Homo sapiens: one gene and its partner. The protein of the gene in region 1 interacts with the protein of each later gene in a pairwise test. Each region holds a gene or a part of one and is shown in the gene's direction. Other genes may lie near its edges. The genes, in order: IK and EGLN3.

Region 1 (5,434 bases):
AGTACTGGAGCATTGGCAAGGAGACAGTTACAGCCAGATTCTGTCTCCTTAACCTACCTAAGAAGCAGTGGTCAGGTCTGAAGCATGAGGGATGGAGAGTGGGTAGCTTATGTCCTATTTATTTATTTTTTTTAAAAGAGATTTTTTGGTGAAAACCAGAAAACCTAGACAGATTCTAAAAAGGCTCTAATACTTGACCGACATTTTATTTTATTTTATTTATTTATTTTTTGAGACGGAGTCTCGCTCTGTCACCCAGGCTGGAGTACAGTGGTGCGATGTCTGCTCACTGCAACCTCTGCCTCCCGGGGTCAAGCGATTCTTCTGCCTCAGCCTCCCAAGTAGGCACTATAGGCACTATAGGCACGCATCACCACGCCTGGCTAATTTTTGTATTTTCAGTAGAGATGGGGTTTCACTGTATTGGCCTGGCTGGCCTCGAACTCCTGACCTTATGATGTGCCCACCTCGGCCTCCCAAAGTGCTGGGATTACAGGCATGAGCCACTCTTCCTGGCCTTATTTTATTATTTTTATTTATTTATTTATTTTGAGACGAGTCTCGTTTTGTCGCCCAGGCTGGAGTGCAGTGATGCCATCTCGGCTCACTGCAACCTCTGCCTCCTGGGTTTAAGCAATTCTCTTGCCTCAGCCTCCTGAGTAGCTGGGATTACAGGCACCTGCCATCACACCCGGCTAATTTTTTTGTACTTTTAGTAGAGATGGGGTTTCACCATGTTAGCCAGGCTGGTCTCAAACTCCTGACCTCAAGTGATCCGCCCGCCTTGGCCTCCCGAAGTGCTGGGATTACAGGCGTGAGCCACCGCACCCAGCCTTGACCCACGTTTTAAACAGAAGATGTTTAAAAGGGCATTAAGAGCTGGAGAGGATGGTGAAGTTCAGTGGAAATTAACTGAGGAGTATGTTCCTGACTCCTCTCTTTAAATTTCAGGGAAGCTGGAAGAGAAGAAACCTCCTGAGGCTGACATGAAGTATGTATCCTAGCCCCTGGCATCTGATCAGAGGGAGGGGGTCTGTACATTTCTTGTGTCTGGCATTTTGGGGAGGTGCTGACATGAGAATCTGGAGAAATGGTCAGGGGGAGTGAAGGTGTATGTGTGAATTTGGCCAGCTAGTGATCTCCATTTTCCCAGTATTTTTGAAGACATTGGGGATTACGTACCCTCCACAACCAAGACACCTCGGGACAAGGAGCGGGAGAGATATCGGGAACGGGAGCGTGATCGGGAAAGAGACAGAGACCGTGACCGAGAGCGAGAGCGAGAACGAGATCGGGAACGAGAGCGAGAGCGGGACCGAGAGAGAGAAGAGGAAAAGAAGAGACACAGCTACTTTGAGAAGCCAAAAGTAGATGATGAGGTGAGATGTGGGCCCTTAGTACCAGGTGATGGAGTTGCCCCTCTCTGGAAATGTGAGCAAGGTTGGGTAAGGAATTGTTTCAAACTTGGGGGAGGGATGAGTAGGAATCTCTCATGGTAACACTAACTTCACATTTTGTGTTCTTTCCAGCCCATGGACGTTGACAAAGGTGAGTTGTACACACAGCATCTCACAGTTGCTCTAGCAGTCCTGCTTTCCCCTGGTAGGGCTCAGAGCTGGCAACGGTGGGATTGGGGGACCTCCTGGTTCTGGGTTCTTGTAAGAACTGTGTCTTGCTTTATTGAATAGGTGGAGTTCCCTCCACCTTCCTGGGCCATGGCAGGGCATATTTGCTCTTAGATATAATTCCTGTGGCCCTGGGGTTCTGAGGAGGTGAGGTAGAGGTCAAGTATGGAATGTTCTGGATACCCTACCCTCATCTCAACCAGAGTGACTCATTAATTGGAGTTTGTTTAAAACTTTGTTAGACAAAAGGGTTCTATGCCTTAAAAATGTTTTTTAAGTGTGTTGTGGGGAGGAGGTTGTGAGAGCCTCAGTTCAAGGTCTGGGCTGAGTTCTCTTTTCTCCTAGGACCTGGGTCTACCAAGGAGTTGATCAAGTCCATCAATGAAAAGTTTGCTGGGTCTGCTGGCTGGGAAGGCACAGAATCATATCCTTTATTTTAATACGTTCCTGGGTTCCAGAGAACTGGTCTCTTTACTCCAACCCCCCCTGCCTCCCTGCTCCCTCCTACCCTGCCCCTCTCCTTCCCTTTTACGCTGAATTTTGACAGAATGAAACCATCCCTTGTTCCTTCCCAGAGCACCCATAACAGCTCACAGCCCACTCAGAATTTTCATGTTGGGGCTTCTAGCCCTTGGCCCCCTCCTGGCTGAAGCTTTACAGCAATAGGTAGAATCCTGTGTAGTGTTTTCTTTAACATAGCATATGCTGAAGAAGCCAGAAGACAAAAAGCAGCTGGGAGATTTCTTTGGCATGTCCAACAGTTATGCAGAGTGCTACCCAGCCACGTATGTGAAACCTGGTTAAGGAAGGGAGGCTGGGATGATTGGGAAACAAGTTGGGGGTGAAATGGAAATTTGATTCGCTAAGTCCCAGGGCTACTTCTTTTTTTTTTTTTTTTTTTTTTGGAGACAGAGTCTCACTCTGTCACCCAGGCTGGAATGCAATGGTATAATCTCTGCTCGCTGCAATCTCCATCTCCCGGGTTCAAGCGATTCTCCTGCCTCACCCTCCCAAGTAGCTGGGATTATAGGCATGCATCACCACACCTGGCTAGTTTTTGTATTTTTAGTAGAGATGAGGTTTCACCATGTTGGTGAGGCTGGTCTTGAACTCCTGACCTCAGGTAATCTGCCCTCCTCAGCCTCCAAAAGTGCGGGGATTACAGGAGTGAGCCACTGCGCCTGGCCCAAGGCTACTTCTTACTTGGATGAACTATTTTATTAGGCTCTAAGTGGGAGGTCTAGGGGGTGGTCATTCCTATGCAGATAACCTCTTAGTCGGGTAGGTTTCCAGATGAAGCATAGGGTCAGGGTATGCAACATCTGTTTAACTCTTGCTTCTCCTTAGGATGGATGACATGGCTGTGGATAGTGATGAGGAGGTGGATTATAGCAAAATGGACCAGGTATGTAGTTAGAAGGATGGTGGGCGCCTTTGGGCAGTTATTATTTGTTTTACATGTATCTCCTTCCCCACTCCTAAAAAATCTATCTCATTTACTGGGCCCCACCCTCCTTTAGCTGCAGCAGTAGAAACAGCAGCATTGAGGGTCATGAGCAGCTTAACTATTTCAGAGTCTTTGCACAAGATCAAATGACATAGGGTCAAAAATCTATTTTTTACTTCCTATAGCAAAGTGCCAGGCTTTGATTCCCATGGTAGGCAGTAAGCAAGCATCAATGCATAAGTAGAAAGGGCAGAAAAAATTGCAGTCTTTGGAAAATAACTAAATTTTATTCTAGCCAGGATTGAAGTTTTCCTCTAAGTCTTAAGCAAAATTAAAAAGAAAAAAACCACTAATGCCACTAATAGTGAAGAAGTCTGTGTTCTTCCCCTGAGTTCACTGTATTGAAATAGCATGGTTTAATCTTGGAGCCTTGTTTAATCCTGCCTCTACTGTTTATTAGTTTTGTGAACTTGCCAAGTTCTTTCACTGTTTATGCCTCAGTTTCCTCATCAGGAAAATGGAGAGAAATATAGTTCCCTCTTCATAGATTTTATGAGAATTAAGTGAGATATGCATTTAGTGTACAGAATAATGCCTGTCACATAGTAAGTATGTAATAAGCATTTATTATTACTTATCAGGGTATGATTTATGAATTGTGGAACCTGGGATTATGGGAGAGTCTGGCTTCAATCAAGGGCTGAAATTCCATTTCCACTGACATCTCTTCCTTCCCCATCCCCCGATTCTGTCCTGCAACAGGGTAACAAGAAGGGGCCCTTAGGCCGTTGGGACTTTGATACCCAGGAAGAATACAGCGAGTATATGAACAACAAAGAAGCTTTGCCCAAGTGAGTCGGTACTGAATATGGGCAGGGTGTGAGGAGGGGTGTGGGGATTTGGTGGAATAGTGCATATAAGGTTAGAGGGTGTGGTCTGGCTGAGATGTTCCCCACTAAGTTCTTTGCCCACAGGACTCTGGGAAAACCTCGCCACTGCTATGCAATCTCTGATGCATTCTTTCCCAACTGCTTTTTTCAGGGCTGCATTCCAGTATGGTATCAAAATGTCTGAAGGGCGGAAAACCAGGCGCTTCAAGGAAACCAATGACAAAGCAGAGCTTGATCGCCAGTGGAAGAAGATTAGTGCAGTAAGTAGGATGGCCCCTTGGGTGGGAGGGTTTCAGCTGGGAGAAGACATTAGCCTGCAGATTCAGGAACAGGCAAGGGGCTGGAGAGCCATGGAAATGAGAGGTCAGCCTTGGGCCTCAGGTGAGCTTAGATGGGCAGCTTGGTGATAGACTATCCTGTTGTTTTTGCAGATCATTGAGAAGAGGAAGAAGATGGAAGCTGATGGGTGAGCGGCATTATTCTTCCTCTGTGGGACTGGTGGGAATTGCTTAGTGTATTGATCTTATACTGACCCATTTCTCCTTCCATTGCAGGGTTGAAGTCAAAAGACCAAAATACTAATCACTAGTTACAACCAGAGATGCTCCACAAGGATATGCTCCCCACTGTTTTCTTTCTACAATTTCCAAAGGTTGCAAGATGTTTTTTTGTGGATGAATATAAAATTTTATTGTGTAATTACTTGGTTCCATTAAAATTGGTTAACTTGCTATTTTCTTTGTTGAGCATGTCCCCTCCAGTGCCCTTGAAGCACCAAGAACACTAATTCCACTGGTTGTGTAAAATCACATGCAGAAAGTCATCAGTCCTTTCCTGAGCTGTGGTTCTAGATTCCTAGACAGTAAGGATGCTCTCTAGCCAGTGTGCCCAGTAGAGAAGAGAATAATGATCCTCACTGATGGGCAAGAGGTGGATAGAGGAATGTAAGTATGATTGGTCTCAAATGTCAGACTCATTCCGGCCCATCTTCAGGCCTAGTCCCTGGGGAAAGATTTCCTGGGGATTGCTGTCAGCCTGATGGGCTGCTAATCTGATCTCCAGGCTATGAAGGACTGGGCTCTGGATGAAGGCATCTAATGAAAATCACTTATGGGTGGGAACCAAAACCTTTTATGAGTTTATGTACTATGAGCTTTATTAATGTTGAGTACAAATCACTGTCTCCTTGGCTAAAGGTGTAACCTTAGGGAAGTGCTTTGGGTTTAGAGCTGATATAGTGTGGCCCTGCAGGTACAGGAATTCCTATCCTAGACCAGAAGGGTTTGGTGCCCTTCATCACCCTGAAACATTTGCCAAGGCCCAGAATAGGTCTGTTGACCTTTGAATCACACCATTCCCTTCCCTTTTCTTCCCTTCTGCTCATTACCAGCACTTTGGCCTGGTGCTCATCATTAGGTGTCACTACTGCTTCCTGGCTGGATGCCACGCTGCCACTGTCTACCCTGAGCCCA
Region 2 (7,282 bases), on another chromosome or scaffold:
CTTCAAAGGATACATATACGTTTGTTGTCTGGACATGGCTGCATACGTGTCTAGAGCACATATTCTGGTCTAGAGCCAGCCTGGGCCGGCCTGATTCACCTCTCCACTCATTTCCTATTGCTACAGAGCTAAGGAGAGGCCTCTGGGAATGGGGATGGTGGGAGGTGGGGTGGGTACACTATATAATGTCAGTGGACAGAGCGGTAAATGTGTAAGGGGACATGTGGATTTATCAGTATATCCAAGAATAGAACTATAGGACTATACTGTATGTGCTGCTGTAGATGACACTACTGTGTTAAACTTGCGTAAACTTCAAATATTAATCTAGTCAGGAAGTTTTAGAAAATAAAAAGCCTGTACTAAAGTAGGCATCCTCTTGATATGTGTCAGTTTATTGCTTGGCATGTTTGTTATATGATCATTAAATTACTCTGGCCCGTTCTTTTAACAATAAAGCATTGAAGACTTCTCTTCTGTTAAACACTAAATCCCTTCCCCGGCTTGATGAGGTTTAGATAGCAACTCAGTTGGACTGATCTGTTTCCGGAGTTTGTTACTGCCCCGTGCACAAATTGGCACAGAAGTGAATGGCTAGTTATTGAAGTCAGGCTTGCTTCTCGGTGCATCCTTAGCCTCATGGTTTTAGACCCTGTCAAAGACGAGCAAATAGTTGGGAATGTGCCCAAGCAAAGACCCATCTCCTATGGCACTCATCCAGAAAACACACTGATAAAATTGGCCAAATGTAGCCTCAACTGGCCCACTGATGCTCGAAATGATTTCCTTCCATTGTTTCCAACTTGATGCATGTGGTTTCTGGAACCAGGAGAGAGGGTGAATGTTCACTCTGGCCAGAAAAATTATCTCTTTGCCTCCCTCTTAAGCAGTCGGATACTTTGCTGACATGTAGGGGTTTTGTCCTAATAGTAAGTCCTCTGGAATTGGCTTTGTCTCTGTGTGTTTTATAGATGCGGCATTTGGTAGAGGATTTACTTTTGTGAGTTTGTATCCATCTTTTTTTTTTTTTTCAATATTTTAATCTGAGCTGAGTTCTGAGGCAGAGAAACACTCCTTAATGACCTGAAGAACTATGTTGCTTTTTCAAGGGTTGATGCTTAGATCAAGTCTTAGATCTTCTTGGGCCTTTGACAGCTGCGTAACCCAATCCCCTCTTTATAGGAAAGAGACAGCCTGGGATCACAGTTAGTTGCAGAGTGAACTATGGCAGGCATCCAGACCACTGACCTTTTCCTTAGAGAAGAGCTGTTTAAGCATATAAGATTATAGCATTGATGTCATACTTTTTCTTTTCAGACACACTCAGTGGGGGGAGCCTGAGATAATAGGGAATCCAGCCTGTAATTGTTTGTGGCTTAAGCGACTTTCATTATTGGCTCTGTGGTGGCTCTTATAATCCTAATAGCTGCTTCCAGGGGTGGGTAATTCTTTAGTCATTATAGGTGACTTTATTTGTCTCTTCTTCTCTTGCTAGGCCCATCAATTCTGTTTGCTACCAATCACCCTTCCTCAAGCCATGCTTTGCTTAGTGGTACCATCATTTGTTAAATCTTCATTGCTGACGTCGCCTCACAGTTTCACCTTCTGAAAGATGTTCAAGCTAACAGCCTAACTTGAGCTCTAAGGATGACATCACATTGACATTTTGATGTTCAAAGGCAGGATATGGGGATTGTTTGCTGCATGAGGATATGAAGTTTGAGAGAGATGGTGATTTAAGCTTTAAAATTGTTGTAAAGTCCAGTTACTATTCAGCCTTATTATTGATCTGGCATGCAAGGTGTGTTTTGCCTAGTTCCGTGTTTTCATGCTACTATTGAGAGTGACTCGGCAGCCACGTTGAAGCTGATTCATTGAACCACTAGCCCATTAGCTTGGGGCTCTACTCAAACGGTCATTTTACCAATGAAGCAACGCTGCCATTTATCAGGAAATATATGGCCTGGATCTTTACATGTATGTTTGAAGATAGGTCTTTTAAAATGACAGAAATAGCTATTGATCTAGGTAAAATGTGAACTTACTCTTTAGAGAAAGAGCCATTCGCTAGTTCATTGATTTATTTATCACATTTTAGATGGACACCTTCTGTATGTCAGGCACTGTCCTAGGTGCTAAGAATACATCAGTGAGTAGAACAGGAAAAAAAATCCCTGTCCTCATCTTGTGTTGCTGGTTCTAATATTTTCCTTGCACCTACTGCATCCCTATAAAAAATATTTTTCAAACATGGCGGTATCCTGTGAAGAAAAGAACTGGCTTTCTATACTTTGCTTTCTTCCCCCTCCCCACTCTGTGTTATAATTTTTCCCTTGGAACAATTAGAGGTCTGTTTACTCTAATGGTAATTTTCAGTAGGATTTTTGGTACGGTTTTCTACTTTATTCTTCCACCTGGTTGATACAGGTAGCACTTAGACAAAGAGAACTTCAGATTATCACCTGATTACATAATTATCAGGAAGAAGACACATATTAAGATACATGCATGGCTTTTTTCCTGAAAGGAATCTCCCTGTGTTGTCTGTGTTAACAAGTTAGGGTGCGGCTTCCTATTGATCTTCCTCTATTCTTTCTATCCTGAGCATTTTATTGAGTAAGCCTGACCTTTTCCTCCTTTGGTGATTAGTTCTGTCACTTTGTGTATGCAAATACCTTTAGCCATTGTTCTGAAACAGTGTGAGTGATTCAGCAGCACTTGCTAAACAGTCATAATCCCTAAACTCCACACCTAGTGACTCTGATTTTGTAGCATGGGAAACTAGAAACTGCTTTTCCAAAAAGGAGTATTGAAGAAAGGCAGGGCATACAAACAGGTTATGCAAACAGGGCATGCAGATAGGTTACTTTAAGAAAGACTGTGTAAAATGTTCTAGAACTGTGGGAATATTGTTGAACTACTTTCCACTGGGCAGAGCCATAGTATGACCTGGCCATTGTGCACAGAAGAGTCCAAATTTATGTACCATACATGAAATTAAGAAGCCAGCAACTACCTGTAAATGTCACGTAACACCCAAGGAGACTGTGTTACTTATCTGCTCACCAGTGGGAGGAGAAGATTGTCTGTCTCAGCTTTGTTAACCAGCTTTCTTGGGATTTCTCCATAGGCAATGGTGGCTTGCTATCCGGGAAATGGAACAGGTTATGTTCGCCACGTGGACAACCCCAACGGTGATGGTCGCTGCATCACCTGCATCTACTATCTGAACAAGAATTGGGATGCCAAGGTACTTTTGAATAATGGGAGTAGAGTGTGGGGTTAGAAACTACAGGAAAATGATTCAGATAACTTAGAGGAGAGTTTATATTGAGTTCATAGTTGCCGTATCTCCCACTGATGAAACATTTCTATTTCCATTTCATAACCTCCTGCGACAATGGAATTAGTCCTAAAGTTGTTAAGAAGAAAACAATGAAGTTAATTTGGAGTGGGGTAGGTAGGGTGATTATTAACCCTACCTCTGGGAAGGGTGGTTGATGAAGGGAAGGTAATTTGATATTAGGATTAAGGATTAATTTTTTTCAGTTTAATTCAGAGTTGTTCTGACTCAATGCAGAATAGGATATACACTTTTCCCTCCCAGCAGCAGCATTGAGAAAGTTCCACAAAAATAGAACTGTAGGCTATAAAACCATCCCCAAGAGAGATTTCCCACACAGTCCTCTCCCTCGGGGTGGTATGTCTCATTGATGGCTGCTTGCCATGGCTTACTATGGTTTGTGAATGCCAAAGGCTTTGTGGCTTATTTTTGTATTATAGAACTTATAGATAGATGGAGATATGAAGCCTGGTTCCATGCTTACAGACATTCATCTGGACTCTGTATGCTTTCCGAAAGTTAAGAATGATTTAGGAGTCTGGGAAGTCAGATAACTTTTCAAGCTTATTTGGCTTTTGAACCTTCTGCATCTCAATTTCCTGTTCATTAGGCAAATACTGGCTGTCATAAAGCAATAATATTTATCCAGAGTCAGAAAAACGAAACTTGGGAAACCATTGAATCAGTGAAAAGGCCTATCTCTTCTCCCTGTTTGGTAACATGACTGGAATACATCCATTAAGTCTCCTTTAAAATCTTGAGAGGTGCTGATAGAGACAAGAGAATAAAGTTATCAGACTGGTAATAATAAATTGCAAGGTCTGGAATCATTTAACAAATATTTGAGTTCCTGCTAGTGTCAGGCGTTGTATTATGAAGAAACATTGATGTGTGAGGCCTGAACTTTACTCTGAATATGGTTATTCTAGTAGGATGAAATAGGTTGACATGTAAAAAAAATAATTCAAGGAAGAGAGTGGTGTATGTCATAAAAGGTGCAGATTAGGTGGTCTGAGAGTTCAGTAAAAAGAGCATGTAACTTCCAACTAATGAGGTCAGATAGGAGCTAAGGGAGTTCAGAAGAGCTGTAAATTCTAATTGAAGGGGAAGTTACATGTGATGATTTTCTTAGAAAGTTGTTAATGGTTAGATGGAACCATGTGAGATCACTGGGCATTTTTTTTTAAGTCAAAAACACTCAAATATTGGCAAATCGGTATGATTCAATCTAATAGTACTCTATTTTACGTCCATGGGCTTTATGACTGTGGGGGGTGGGAGTGCTTTTTTTGGTTTAAGGTGAATAAGGAGATATCTCTAGCTAAGTTTGATATAAAATTTGGTACGAAGTGGCTGGGCGTGGTGGCTCATGCCTATAATCCCAGCACTTCAGGAGGCCCTAGTGGGCGGATCACCTGAGGTCGGGAGTTCGAGACCAGCCTGACCAACATGGGGAAACCCCGTCTCTACTAAAAATACAAAATTAACTGGGCATGGTGGTGCATGCCTCTAATCCCAGCTACTCGGGAGGCTGAGGCAAGAGAATCACTTGAACCAGGGAGGTGGAAGTGGCAGTGAAACGAGATCGTGCCATTGCACTCCAGCCTGGGCAACAAGAGTGAAACTCCATCTCAAATTGGTACAAACTATGAGGTTGAAGTAAAAATCTGGGGTACCATGCATTTGGAGTGGTGGTTAGCAGATGGCATGTTTCTAAATGGAGCTGAAATATGGTTGTTGATAAACTACATGAGAGGTAAGAAATAATCCCCCTTCTTTGTGTCTTTCAGCTACATGGTGGGATCCTGCGGATATTTCCAGAGGGGAAATCATTCATAGCAGATGTGGAGCCCATTTTTGACAGACTCCTGTTCTTCTGGTCAGATCGTAGGAACCCACACGAAGTGCAGCCCTCTTACGCAACCAGGTAATAGCCGGAGCCATGATTCCTCTTCCGGAGCTTGGTGTACAAACCCTAGTTCCAGAGAACTCTTTAAACGTGTGTCCTGTGCATGTGGGGGATTGACCACACCCCATAGCTGATAGCAAACTTGTTTGGAGTCTACAAAAATTAAAGGGGAAACTTTGCGTTCTTTAGCATATCAAACCTAACCTCAGTTTGAAAGTACTATTAACAAGTTGTTTTCTATTAGATGAGCATATTGGATTCCAATTTCTCAAAAGTATTTTTCTCTTCTCTCCTTTCCTCCCTTCTCTTATCTCTCTTTCCCTTTTTTTAAAAAACCTAATGTTGAACTATGCCTAGAGAATGTTGGCTGTCACATATCAGGAATTCTGTCTGGTTACTTTGGATGAGTTTACAAGCTGCTAATTGCAAGCAGAGAAAGAGCCTTGAGAAGAGAAAGAGTAATTTGTTTTGACTTTCTCTTTTTGTCTTTTCCTTGGTTTGAAATTGGCTTGGGCTTGCTGTATCCATGGTCCAACAGTTGGATGTTTTATTAATCTTTTCTTTATCATGTGCACATGAAGATTCTCAGAGTAACTGAACACCTTAGTATTGTTTAGGACCAATCTAGACAATCTTGACAAAAAATCTTCATTCTCAATTCTGCCTCTCATTTACCTTTGTCTGTGTCTAAAGCAATAAGCCGGGCAGCATTGGAGGGCTATGGAGTGCAGCTTATACTGAGACTAGCATTCAGGGGCAGGAGGAGAGAATTTTGGTAGGATGATGATTAAACCCTAACAAGCCTAATTAAATTAAGATCACATGTGCCCTCCTCCGGAAGTCACACAGCTTAGCCCCAAACCCAGTTATATATTAACTGCCAAATCGGAATGTCTTCTAGATGAGCAGGGAACGAATTCTACCACTGAAGTCAGCTTTTGTGTTTTATGGGGTATGTAACTAAACCCTGTTGTTTGTGGCAGAAGTCTTTGGTTATTCCCCAATCTCATGATGACTGGCCTTACAGGGAAAACATTAGCAAATGTTGATGAGAAGTCCCTTGAAAAAAACTCAAGTGCTATAGAAATTGTTAGCTACGGAAGTAGCTAACAATCATTACAAAATGAAACTTTAAAAAAAAACCAAGCATGAAATGGCTCCCATTACAGTCTATCCAATGAATGGGATAAAGCAAATTAGTGGGGATGCAGTAGAAAGCTCTGGGGCATTATTATTATTCAATTGCAATTTTGCCTCAATGTCCAAAACTAAAGAAAGCAAGCCAAGAGTTTTAAACATACTGTGATTTACATAAGTCGTTTTTCAAAGCTTCACTCAAATGTCATCTCTTCTCTATGTTCTCGCCACCAACTTGGGTCTCCCAGTCTTTAGCAGAATGACTCCCTTCTAGTCCTTTCTGTAGAGGCTATGTTTACCTGTTGCATTATTGCAAAATCACCTGTCTCCCCTACTTGGAGCCTGAGATCGCAGAGGAAGATCTGATCACAGGGTCATTTGAATTCCTAATGCCCAAGATAATTTCTGGCACATACCTGGAATTCCTTATGCATTTTATTACATTGAAATAGAATTAAAACCAGAGAAGTTAATTTTAAATTAAAATCAGCGTAGACAGGCCGGGCATGGTGGCTCACACCTGCAATCCCAGCACTTTGGGAGGCCGAGGTGGGCAGGTCAAGAGATCGAGACCATCCTGGCCAACATGGTGAAACCCCATCTCTACTAAAAATTTAAAAATTAGCTGGGTGTGGTAGCGTGCACCTGTAGTCCCAGCTACTTGGGAAGCTGAGGCAGGAGAATCGCTTGAACCTGGGAAGTGGAGGTTGCAGTGAGCCGAGATCACGCCTCTGCCTGGCAACAGAGCAAGACTCCATCTCAAAAAATAAATAAATAAATAAATAAATAAATAAATAAATAAATCAGGGTAGACTTCTAATAATAGAGAAAACTTTAAAACTTTTAATGTGAGATTTATAGGACATTTGTGTTTCTAGTAGTACCATTAAATC

Evidence for each region.
Region 2: the proteins of IK (region 1) and EGLN3 interact in binary tests that used the Homo sapiens proteins (3 or more experiments, as listed by UniProt).

What each region holds. Positions count from the first base shown.
Region 1 is NC_000005.10:140,657,786-140,663,219, forward strand, and holds the end of IK (protein Red), read left to right. Parts: intron 1-951; coding exon 952-991; intron 992-1,153; coding exon 1,154-1,379; intron 1,380-1,529; coding exon 1,530-1,548; intron 1,549-1,970; coding exon 1,971-2,049; intron 2,050-2,329; coding exon 2,330-2,410; intron 2,411-2,972; coding exon 2,973-3,030; intron 3,031-3,834; coding exon 3,835-3,923; intron 3,924-4,113; coding exon 4,114-4,222; intron 4,223-4,393; coding exon 4,394-4,428; intron 4,429-4,516; coding exon 4,517-4,544; 3' UTR 4,545-4,695; downstream 4,696-5,434. UniProt on the Homo sapiens protein: Involved in pre-mRNA splicing as a component of the spliceosome. Auxiliary spliceosomal protein that regulates selection of alternative splice sites in a small set of target pre-mRNA species. Required for normal mitotic cell cycle progression.
Region 2 is NC_000014.9:33,927,064-33,934,345, reverse strand, and holds part of EGLN3 (prolyl hydroxylase EGLN3), read left to right. Parts: intron 1-3,130; coding exon 3,131-3,250; intron 3,251-5,133; coding exon 5,134-5,270; intron 5,271-7,282. UniProt on the Homo sapiens protein: Prolyl hydroxylase that mediates hydroxylation of proline residues in target proteins, such as PKM, TELO2, ATF4 and HIF1A. Target proteins are preferentially recognized via a LXXLAP motif.